Linked DNA regions of Homo sapiens: region 1 is linked to region 2. The links come from fine-mapping of genetic effects on gene expression. A gene starts in region 2. The other region holds a variant in brackets. All regions are shown on one strand. Distances are from middle to middle. Region 1 has its middle 54 kb from the start of HOPX. Region 2 holds the start of HOPX (HOP homeobox).

Evidence for each region. PIP is the estimated chance that this variant, and not a neighbour inherited with it, causes the effect. A credible set is the group of variants that fine-mapping cannot tell apart.
Region 1: its variant is the best candidate, but not a certain one, in a credible set for the expression of HOPX in whole blood (TOPMed, PIP 0.64).

What each region holds. Positions count from the first base shown.
Region 1 is chr4:56,624,530-56,629,910 of GRCh38, forward strand. It overlaps a transcript of SPMAP2L not described here. Among named protein-coding and RNA genes, the nearest start is that of HOPX, 54 kb to the right of the region's middle. The variant T/C (reference allele first, on the strand shown) is at 3,078.
Region 2 is chr4:56,678,976-56,684,356 of GRCh38, forward strand. HOPX (HOP homeobox) reads right to left here and starts at 2,321. Exons shown (of 4, transcript NM_032495.6): 1 at 2,280-2,321. LOC105377666 (a long non-coding RNA gene) reads left to right here and starts at 4,258. Exons shown (of 3, transcript XR_941078.3): 1 at 4,258-4,415. RefSeq lists a silencer at 2,319-2,368.

The DNA.
Region 1 (5,381 bases), 54 kb before region 2:
AAAAAGTGGTTTTGTGGGCCAGGCCCAGGGTCCCCATGCTATGTTCAGCCTAGGGACTTGGTGCTCTGTGTCCCATCTGCTCCAGCCTTGGCTGAAAAGGGCCAACACAGAGCTCGAGCTGTGGCTTCAGAGGGTGGAAGCTTCAAGCCTTGGCAGCTTCCACTTGGTGTTGAGCCTGCGGGTGCACAGAAGTCAAGAATTGAGGTTTGGGAACCTCCACTTAGATTTCAGAAGATGTATGGAAATACTTGGATGTCCAGGCAAAAGTTTGCTGCAGGGCGGGGCCCTCATGGAGAACCTCTTCTAGGGCAGTGTGGAAGGGAAATGTGGGGTCAGAGCCCCCACACAGAGTCCCTACTGGGGCACTGCCTAGTGGAGCTGAGAGAAGAGGGTCACTGTCCTCCAGACCCCAGAATGGTAGATCCACCAACAGCTTGTACTGTGCACCTGGAAAAGCTGCAGACATTCAATGCAAGCCTGTGAAAGCAGCCAGGAGGGAGGCTCTACCCTGCAAAGCCACAGGGGTACAGCTGCTCAAGACCATGGGAACCCATCTCTTGTGGGTGACCTGGATGTGAGACCTGGAGTCAAAGGAGATCATTTAGGATCTTTAAAATTTGACTGCCCTGCTGGGTTTCAGACTTATATGGGGCCTGCTACCCCTTTGGTTTGGCCAATTTCTCCCATTTGGCATGACTGTATGTACACAATACCTGTACTCCCATTGTATCTAGGAAGTAACTAGCTTGCTTTTGATTTTACAGGCTCATAGGAGGAAGGGATTTGCCTTGTTTCAAATGAGACTTTGTACTGTGCACTTTGGGTTAATGCTGAAATGAGTTAAGACTTTGGGGGACTGTTGGGAAGGCATGATTGGTTTTGAAATGTGAGCACATGAGATTTGGAGGGGCCAGGGGCGGAATGATATGGTTTGGCTATGTTCCCACCCAAATCTCAACTTGAATTGTATCTCCCAGAATTCCCACAGGTTATGGGAGGATCCAGGGGGAGGTAATTGAATCATGGGGGCCAGTCTTTCCCGTGCTATTCTCATGATAGTGAATAAGTGTCACAAGATCTGATGGGTTTATCAGGGGTTTCCACTTTTGCTTTTTCCTCATCTTCCTCTTGCTGCTGCCATGTAAGAAGTGCCTTTCACCTCCCGCCATGATTCTGAGGCCTCCCCAGCCATGTGGAAATGTAAGTCAAATTAAACCTCCTTTTCTTCCCAATTTCAGTATATCTTTATCAGCAGCATGAAAACGGACTAATACAGGCCATGTATTTTATTTGTATGTAGTTCTTATCTCCCCTAGTAAAATTTCAGCTTCCAGATAGCCGGAGTTATTTCTCAACAGAGTGAAGTCAGAAGGTGTGTTTCCCAGACAATCTCCAGGGTTTCTCCAAGAAGCTTTCAAGAAAGCCCTGTGGCTACCCTGTGGGTTGGCCACACTGGTCCCTGCTGCTAAGTGGTAAGACTTCCCTTCCCAGCCGATGCCAACCATCACATATGTGGTCACCTTTGGAGACATTGGATACCTCTCAACACAGTTCAGCTGAGAGGAAACTGAAGGAATGAGACATAGGACAGATAAGTTTCAATGGAAGAAGATGAAGATAAGGAAAAGAAAAGGCCATAGCCTCCCATGGGTGACTGGGATGAGAAATAAAATATGAAAGTGAAATTGCCTTTGTAAAAATTATAACAGAAAAACATGACAGTAAAAGAGATCTGACCTAACCAAGTCCATCTTGGCCTTAACCTCCAAACTGTCCTTGGTCATTCCTGGGCATGGGCCAAGCTAATTTTTGGAGAAATTTAGCTTATAGTGTAACCTTAAAGCAAGGATAATAATAGCCCTTCCCAAAACTAAACTAAAGTCTGCAAAGTTAGGATTACAAGAGGGGCTTGAATTCTGCTAAGATGTATGCATAGTTAAATGATAACCTGCCATTGTTCCAGAGGTTACAAGATTTGTAACTTCCCCAATTACTCCTGTAAATGACATCAGTATTGTAGAACATAAGATTTGCTTTTTGAGTTGTCTTTTCTGACTTTTCCATTTCTCACAACCTGATGAGTCCACTCATGACTCAACTAGTCCTGTGGCTCCTCCCCAAAAGCGGACTCAGGGCAGAAGGACTATTTCCACACCCTATGAGTGCATCCCCAACCAATCAGCAGCACCCATTCCCTAGCCCCCACCACCAAACTATCTTTAAAAAATCCTAGCCTCCAAATTTTCAAGGAGGCTGATTTGAGTAATAATAAATCTCCAGCCTTCTGGTTAGCTGGCTCTACATGTATTAAACTCTTTCTCTGTTGCAATTTCTGTCCCAATAAATTGGCTCTGTCTGGGCAGCCAGCAAGATGAACCCATTGGATGGTTACAAAAAGACCTCAGAAACCAGTCCAGAATTTATAATTTTGTCCAAGATAGGCCCTGTTTCTGTGGAAAGGGGATTGTGTGAGCCCATTGACTTTCTTTTTTGTGAGTTGTCTGATGAAACCTTTATTCAATCTCTACTCAACTAAGCAGGGAGGCCGCAATGGCAGTATTTGGCTCCAGGTTTTTTCATGTGGGCTGGAGCCCCAGGGCCCAGGTGGGTGGCCCACCGCTGGGAGGCACCATACCCATGGAGAAGAAGGACAATGACAACAAGCTCTTTGCTCCAGTGGCCATTCTGTTCACCACTCCCCTCTTGCTTCCACTGCTCAGGACTCAAATGTTCTCCACAGTTCCTTGCAGCTCTAAATCTTTTCAAAGTCCTTAACAGTCTTATTGTCAGCCTTTCTAGTCCTCTAGCATTTCCTATATACAGAGAGGACAATATGTCATCTTAGCCTCACAGCTGGGCCTAGATAATATGTTTGGGTGCCCAGCCTTCTGTTACCCACTGGGAATGAAAAGTGCAGCAATTGGCAGGAGGAGGTAGCCTTTCCCTCTCCACCTCCTGAGTAAGTGACTCTAAGGTGTCCTGATCTCAAAATGTGATGAAAACCAGCTAAGGAGGCTCTGCAGGGATGTCTCATCACAGGGTGAGCTTATATACATCTGGTTTTACACCTTTAACCA[T/C]GGAAGGCCAACATCCTTATTCAAACCACATCTGAGCTTCTGCTTGATCCTTAACCTGAGTTCAGTTCTGAAGGTGCATGCAGACTTGGAGAGTAATTAATTGTACTGTATAAGACGGACATACATGCCCCCTGGGAGATCTGCTTAAATTCCAGAGCTGGATGCTAAGTGAACCCATCTAGTGAGAGCAGGGTCAAGGCCTCATTCGTCTCTGGACCCCAGTGACCAGCCCTGTGTCTGCCACCTTGTAGCCACTCTGGCAGTGTTTACTGTACTGAAATGAAACTGCATTTAGTCCATATTTGTGGAATTTGGATCAATTTATCAGACTTTTTAATATCCCCAAGTAAGTCTCAGGCTCTAAAATAAATAAATAAATAAACTAGCTTCATTAAATGACCCAGAGATCATAATTCTTTGGCTTTGCTTTTCTTACTGCTCTCCACATCCCCCAAGCATTAAGGAGTGCAGAGCACAAAAGAGGAGAGATTGAAGGGAAAGTCCCTTCTGATTGTCAGGCTAGAGACTCATGTGCTTTTATGGAATAAGTATTTTGTACCAGGACTGGACAACATAGTAGCTTCCTTATGAGAGAAGATGAAAGGAATGATGATGTTGGCCAGAGCAGGAAAAAAATACCGAAGGTTCGCTCTTCCTTCTGGCTAGCTGTTCAGCTCCTTAAAGCAAAACAATCCTTCTCTCTGGCATATGTGTTAAATCTGGCCCTACTGTGGCTTTTTCCCCCAACAGTTCAAAGCAAGTTCCCTAATTATTATCCTTATTTAGGCTCAGCTAACCCTATAAACAGGACCTCTTAGGTTGCTGCTATTGTTTTGAAACTTCCTTGGCTTTGGAGATGGTCTACGACTTATTTACTAATTGCAGAATCTAAAACTATTGGTGGGGTTTTCACTCACAATTCTCACTTGTTGGTACAAATGGAGCAACTTATATCAAAAGATAAAATTATGACACATTTAGTTTAAAAATCTAAGTGAATTTTATTAGCTATTCTATAACTGGGCAACACTTCAATCTATAGAATAGAATGAGTGTTCTCCTGGGTGTGGCAGAATAGATTTTGTAAGTGGGAACAAGGAAACAATAATTTTTAAAAAATTTTTTCAGAATGCATCATTGGAACAGAGGAAACAATAATTTTAAAAAGTAGATTGGTTAACACAAGCTTACTACAGGTCACTTCTTATAAGGGTTAAAGCAGAGGGGACTTCCTTATTATGCTGACTCAGGCAAACTTGGCTTTTTCTGGTTGCTGTGAATCTCTTGTTTTCAGGAGAACGCTAGTCCATTTGGGGATTTACCTGCTTCAGCTAACATAAATGACTCCATTTTGGTTTGGTCTGGTCTGCTGGAGCCTAGTGCAGGAGACTAGTCCAAAACAATGCCTTCCTATAAACTTTGTTTAACACTTGATTGAAAAGGAATTGAATTCTCTAAACCTCCAAAAGATTCCAAATGGTTGCTGTTTGACCTTGTGGTGTACAACATGGTTGGGTCTTGAAAATATTATACTATGTGAAAAAATCCTGACATGAGACAATGTATCATATGGTTCTACGTATATAAGATACCCAGAATAGGGAACTTCACAAAGACAGAAAATAGATAAGTGGTTGGGGGTTCAGGGGAGGAGAGAATGGAAACTGGCTGCTAATAGGTACAGGGTTTCTCTTTGGAGATGTCTTAGTTTGGGCTGTGTATTAGTCCATTCTCACACTGCTATAAAGAACTGCCCAGCAGTAATTATAATTTATTAGGAAATAAGTTCAATTAACTCACAGTTCCACAGGGTTGGAGAGGCCTTAGGAAACTCACAATCACGGCGGAAGGGGAAGCAAACACGTCCTTCTTCACGTGGTGGAAGGAAGGAGCAATGCTGAGCAAAGGGGGAGAAGCCTGTTATAAAACAATCATATCTCATGAGAACTCATTCATTATCATGAGAACAGCATAGGGGTAACTGCCCCCATGATTCAATTACCTCCTACCCAGTCATTCCCCTGACACATGGGAATTATGGGAACTGCGGTTCAAGATGAGATTTGGGTGGGACACAACCAAACCATATTGGGCTGTGATATGGTTTGGATGTTGTGCCCAAATCTCATGTTGAATTGTAGTCCCCAGTGTTGGAGGTGGGGTCTGGTGGGAGGTGTTTGGATCATAAGGGTGGATCCCTCATGAATGGCTTGGGGCCATCCCCTTGGTGATAAGTGAGCTCTCTCTCTGAGTTCACATGAGATCTAGTCATTTAAAAATGTGTGCCACCTGCCCCCTCAACTC
Region 2 (5,381 bases):
GGTTAGGCACAGTGGCTCACACCTGTAATCCCAGCACTTTGGGAGGCCAAGGCAGGCAGATCGCTTGAGCTCAGGAGTTTGGGACTAGCCTGGGCAACATAGCAAAACCCCATCTCTACAGCTGGGTGTGGTGGCACAAGTCTGTGTTCCCAGCTACTTGGGAGGCTGAGGTGGGAGGATTGCTTGAGCCTGGGAGGCAGAGGCTGCAGTGAGCCGAGATCGTGCTACTGCACTCCAGCCTGGGTGACAGAGTGAGATCCTATCTCAAAAAAATAAAAATAAAAATAATGTGGTTAAAGTATTGTTTGTTGGGAGTAATCAGCTATAATACTGAATGTTTAAAGTACACAATTTGATAAATCTTCCCATATAAGAAATGGTCACAGTCACAATAATGAACATATCCATCACCCTCAAAAGTTTCCTGTGTACCTTGGGAGTCCCCCCAAACATTTTTTCTCCTGCCCCTACCTTCCCAAGTAACCATGGATCTTCTTTCTTTCTTTTTTTTTTTTTTCTTAAGACAGAATCTTGCTCTGTCGCCCAGGCTGGAGCGCAGTGGTACAATCTCAGCTCACTGCAACCTCCGCCTCCCGGGTTCAAGCAATTATCCTGTCTCAGCCTCCCGAGTAGCTGGGATTACAGGTGCCCACCACCAAGCCCGCCTAATTTTTGTATTTTTAGTAGAGACGGGGTTTCACTATATTGGCCAGGCTGGTCTCAAACTCCTGACCTCAAGTGATCCGCTCACCTCGGCCTCCCAAAGTGCTGGGATTACAGGCGTGGGCCACCGCACCCAGCCACTTTCTTTTTGCTATAGATTAGTTTGCATTTTCTATCATTTTATACAAATGTAATCACTCAACACATCCTATTTTGTGCATGGACATAACATCTAATTATCTCCCTGGACTTTAGATTTCAAGCTCTTTGAGAACAAGATCCATTTTTTCTTTTCTCTTCCTCTTGGCCTTCAACTTATCTTTTCTCAGATATAGCCCTTAATCATTATTTGCTTGATTGACATAAGACCTTCATGAACTTAAAACCAAGCTTCAGTTTGGTGGCTAAGAAGTGCCTGCCACGTTGAAGGTTTTTAACTCGCCACCACTTCTGGAGAGGTTCCTCAGTCGGCAGCTTCAGCCCAGTTAAAAAAAAATAATAATAAGCATATGAGCTTCATTTAGGTCCGTGGACTTCTAGGAGTCCAGAAAGTGAGAGTCAAGGTGTGGGTTGGGGTGTGGGGTGGAAGGGGAGGCTCAGGAAGCGAGGAATGAATACCTGAGAAAGGTCCTTGGCTTTCACCAGATTCTTGATACAAAGGGATAGACTATGGAATTAATGCCCTGCTCTATTCCTATCTGCTTTTCATGAATCTGTTGTTTAATTATAAATCCTTTACTATCTGCTCCTCCCTTCTCCTCCCTTCCCACCTCCCCAGCACCTTCGTTTTGTTCTCTGCCTGCCCTGGTTATACTTAACCTTACTTAACTAAACACACTACAGGGCCCTGTCCAGTAGCAGTGCCACTTCATGGGAACTGTTTGCATTCCTTTTCTCTTTAAGAGCTTCTTATCTGAACTATGTGATAGATTGTACCTTTTTATTCAATGATTCTTATTCCACTTTACTTAACAGTTTACCCTGAATACTTGGATGCCACTCACATATCACAAACCTATACTTTCTCTAAACCCCAGAGCCTGGGATTCCTTTTCATCTCAAAAAAAAAAAATCACTGTTTTTGTTGTTATAAATAAGTATTATGAGAACCAGAAGTAACAATAAACTGCAAATTCAAAATCAAGCCACTTCTCCATCCAGAGACAGCTCCCTCACTTCCCCTTGTCAAACACAAAACATATTTTAAAACGATATTATGTCTGATTTTAGATAAAAGTCTGGGATGTAGAATAACAATAATCTGCTTCTAAATGAGAAAATCATAGGCATCTGACAAATGCTGGTTTCAAAGTTATCTTTCCAAAATAGAAGCGAGTAAGAAAAACATCTCACCTGCTTGGCCAAAAGACCAACACCAACTCCCCTTCCTCCAAATTCCCCTCGACCCCATGCAGTTTTGTTTGTAAGGGACTGATGTCTTACACCCAGCAGCATTTCCTAGCTTCTGCTTGGGGGTAAGCTTGTCATTCCTATTCTCCCTTTCACCTCTACCGTTTTCCAACAGATGAGCAAATACGGTAACGATAGCATTTTGGTCTAGTTCCTGCACAAACTCATTCCTCTGCATAAAAGGCAGACCTTTGAAAGGTACTTACGTGGAAGAGGCAAAGGCAAGCGCAAGCCCTGGGTTTGGAAGCTGTGTTTGCTGATGCCAGCCTGCTTAAATAGCTGGGCTGGCTGACGCAGGCTGCTGATAGCACGTTTATTTACGCCTATGAGCACACACTCGAGCAAGGACCTGAAAAACCTGCAGCGTGGGCAGGAGGTAAACCACTGAAAGTATGCCGAGGTTACGTCTCTCCTGGTTATTCAGGTTTGATGTTCAGGCTGGGACTTCTGAGAGTCTCATGGAACTTTCTCGTCACTATCTTCTCGTCCCTGACCTCTCTCCTAGCCAAGCAAGCTTCTTCACCAAGATAGGATAAGAGAGATGTGGCTGAGAGAAGACGGGGAAGAGAAAAGGGACCCTGAGTCTTCTCATCCACTTCCTTACTTTGAGCGAGTTTCCAGTTAGATGTTGCCTCATTTCAAAGCGTAGATCTGGTGCGGTTGATTTCACAGCTCTGAGAGCTGGATGCCAAGCTAAGAGCCTGGACAATTGCCCAATTAATGAAAGGTTGTTTTCTTTTGGGCACAGAATGTACACATAAAGAACAGTTAAAAGGGAGAGATTCGGGCTAGGATGATACAGTTTTAGGTCTCCCTCAAAAACGATTCTCATTTATTTCCCCTGCATCTGTACTTTCCTCTTACCATCCCCTCCCCTTCGTTAATGAAATTCCTGTCTAAGAGGTGAAAGATTCCCCATGGGCTTGCGAATAAAAAGCCAGTGTGTGAGCAAGTCTGTGGGAAGATGCATGCAGAGTGTGACAGAGAGTTTAGGGGCTCGTGTGACAATCCGTGGAAATGTTTCTAAAGGCGAGGGTATGTGTGTGGGTGTGAGGACCCGGCTGTTGGATGTTTACGTATTTTATTAGCTAGATACGGGAGCTAATACTCAATTGCAGTGCACTAAACATTATTAGGTGGGTATGATTTTGAGGGAATGAGGGAAGGGAGACAAGGTCTGGTGAGATCATCTGTGGGATTATCTGTGTGTATTTGCTGGTTTGTAGCACAAACCGGTAAGTGCCATCCAGAGAGCCACACCCTATATTATTCACTTCAGCAGAGAAAGAGAAAGCCCACTTGAGTCTCTTGGGAACAGTAGCCATATGTGAAAGAAGAGCAGCGCTCATTCAGAATACCTCTTTCCCTCTTGGAAAAGGGGGTGACGGTTATAAAACATGTGTGGGAAAGAGTAGAGACAGGGGGCCCAGGTTAACCCAACCTTGGTTACCAGAGGAATTCTTTTGTTTCCTGCCTAATTCAATGCCTAACTTCTGACCATTCTATGGCCAAATCTGGATTCTTGCTGCCACGATTTTTTGAATGGGCAGGGTCTATGTCTTGTTTATCATTTGATACCCACAGCATTATTATTATTATTGTTGTTGCACAAATTATTACTATGACAGCACAAATTATTATGATGATGACAATGGTGATGATCCATAATCTAGTAAGACTGACTGTGTGTCAGGCTCCATGTAAGGACTGTACAGAGAGTTTGTCTGCTTATTTAATATGTAATACAATAACCCTATGAGGTTGTATTGTTTTTTGTTTTTCACTCAGGCTGGAGTGCAGTGACACGATCTTGGCTCACTGCAGCCTTGACCTCCCGGGCTGAGGTGATTCTCCCACCTCAGCCTCCCAAGTAGCTGGGACCACAGGCACACACCACCAGAAGTGGCTAATTTTTTGTAAAGACAGTATTACACCATGTTGCCCAGGCTGGTCTCAAACTCCTGGGCTCAAGGGATCCTCCTGCCTCAGCCTCCCAAAGTGCTGGGATTACAGCCGTGAGCCACCATGCCCGGCTGAGTTAGTTTTTTTTATTATCGTTATTTTACAGAAGAGGAAACTGATACTCAGAAAGACTAAATAACTTTCCCAAGGTCACAGTGAATGGTGGGGGTGGAATTTGAATCCAGTTCTATCTGATTCCAGAGTCAGGGTTTCACTCAGGACTGGCTTGAACCAATACTTAGAAAGTTGCCTAAGAGTGTTTTCACCTATCCTTAATTGTGTTTTTGTTTATCATCTGTCTTCCAGAATGTGATTTCCATGACAACAATGACCTTTCTGCATTGTTTACTCCTGTGATCCAGAACAGTGCCTGGCACTTGGTAGGTGCTCAATAAATATGTGCCATCTGTTCAGTTTCTAAATTCCCGTGGAGGCAGTACAGCCCAACAGATAGAGGTCCTGGCATCAACAGAGTCTCATCCTGGTTCAGATGAGACATTTCTTTTTCTCTTGCATAATGTGTCAACTTCAAGCTGTTTCTCTTTATCCGGTGTATCATGGAGATTAAAGAAAAAGTGATTGAAACCATGAAGCAGTTTTTACATCACTTGACTCTGCAGGTAGCAGGTATATGGTTCCGGTTGATTGGGGGTGCAGTGATGAAACCAAGACCTCTAGCTTTTTCCATCTTTCATTTTGTAGCTCTCAGTGTGACAGCATTGTCTCTCCTCATGGTGGTAAGATGGCTACAGTAGCTCCATTCATCATATCTTTAAACAAAATATCCAAAGACAGGTAAAAAGTGTCCCAGGCTTTCTTTCTCCTAAGTGTCTTTCCTTGTTAGAGAGGAAAACCTTTTCAGAAATCACTAGGAGTCTTTCACTTATGTCTCCTTGCTGAGCACTGGGTTGTGTCAGCCAACACATTGGCTAAATCCATCATTTTCAAAGAGGAAAGGGATCAGGCTGATCATGGTTCCTCTCCTGGGTCTAAGGGAAGAATCCACCTTCTCCAGACAAATTGCTCTGATCATCTGAACAAAATCAAGATTCATTTATTAGTGAAGAAGCAGAAATGTGCTACCCACAGTTTTGCCAATCTAAGAGATCCTTTAAAATACAATAACCTAAACTTCTTTCATGCTTGGGCACCAGTCCAGCCATGGCAATTGGGTTTTACTATATCAGTTCTCTCTTTCTATGCTTTTTTTTTTTTTTTTCCCAGTGAGATAAGTTTGCTTTGGCTCTCAGTAAAATTAAGAGTATTTCAACAGCCTGCAAATAAGGGAGGTAGCTGGCCACTAATTTTTTTCCTGCAGGTTTAGATCCTAGGTCTTTATATCACCA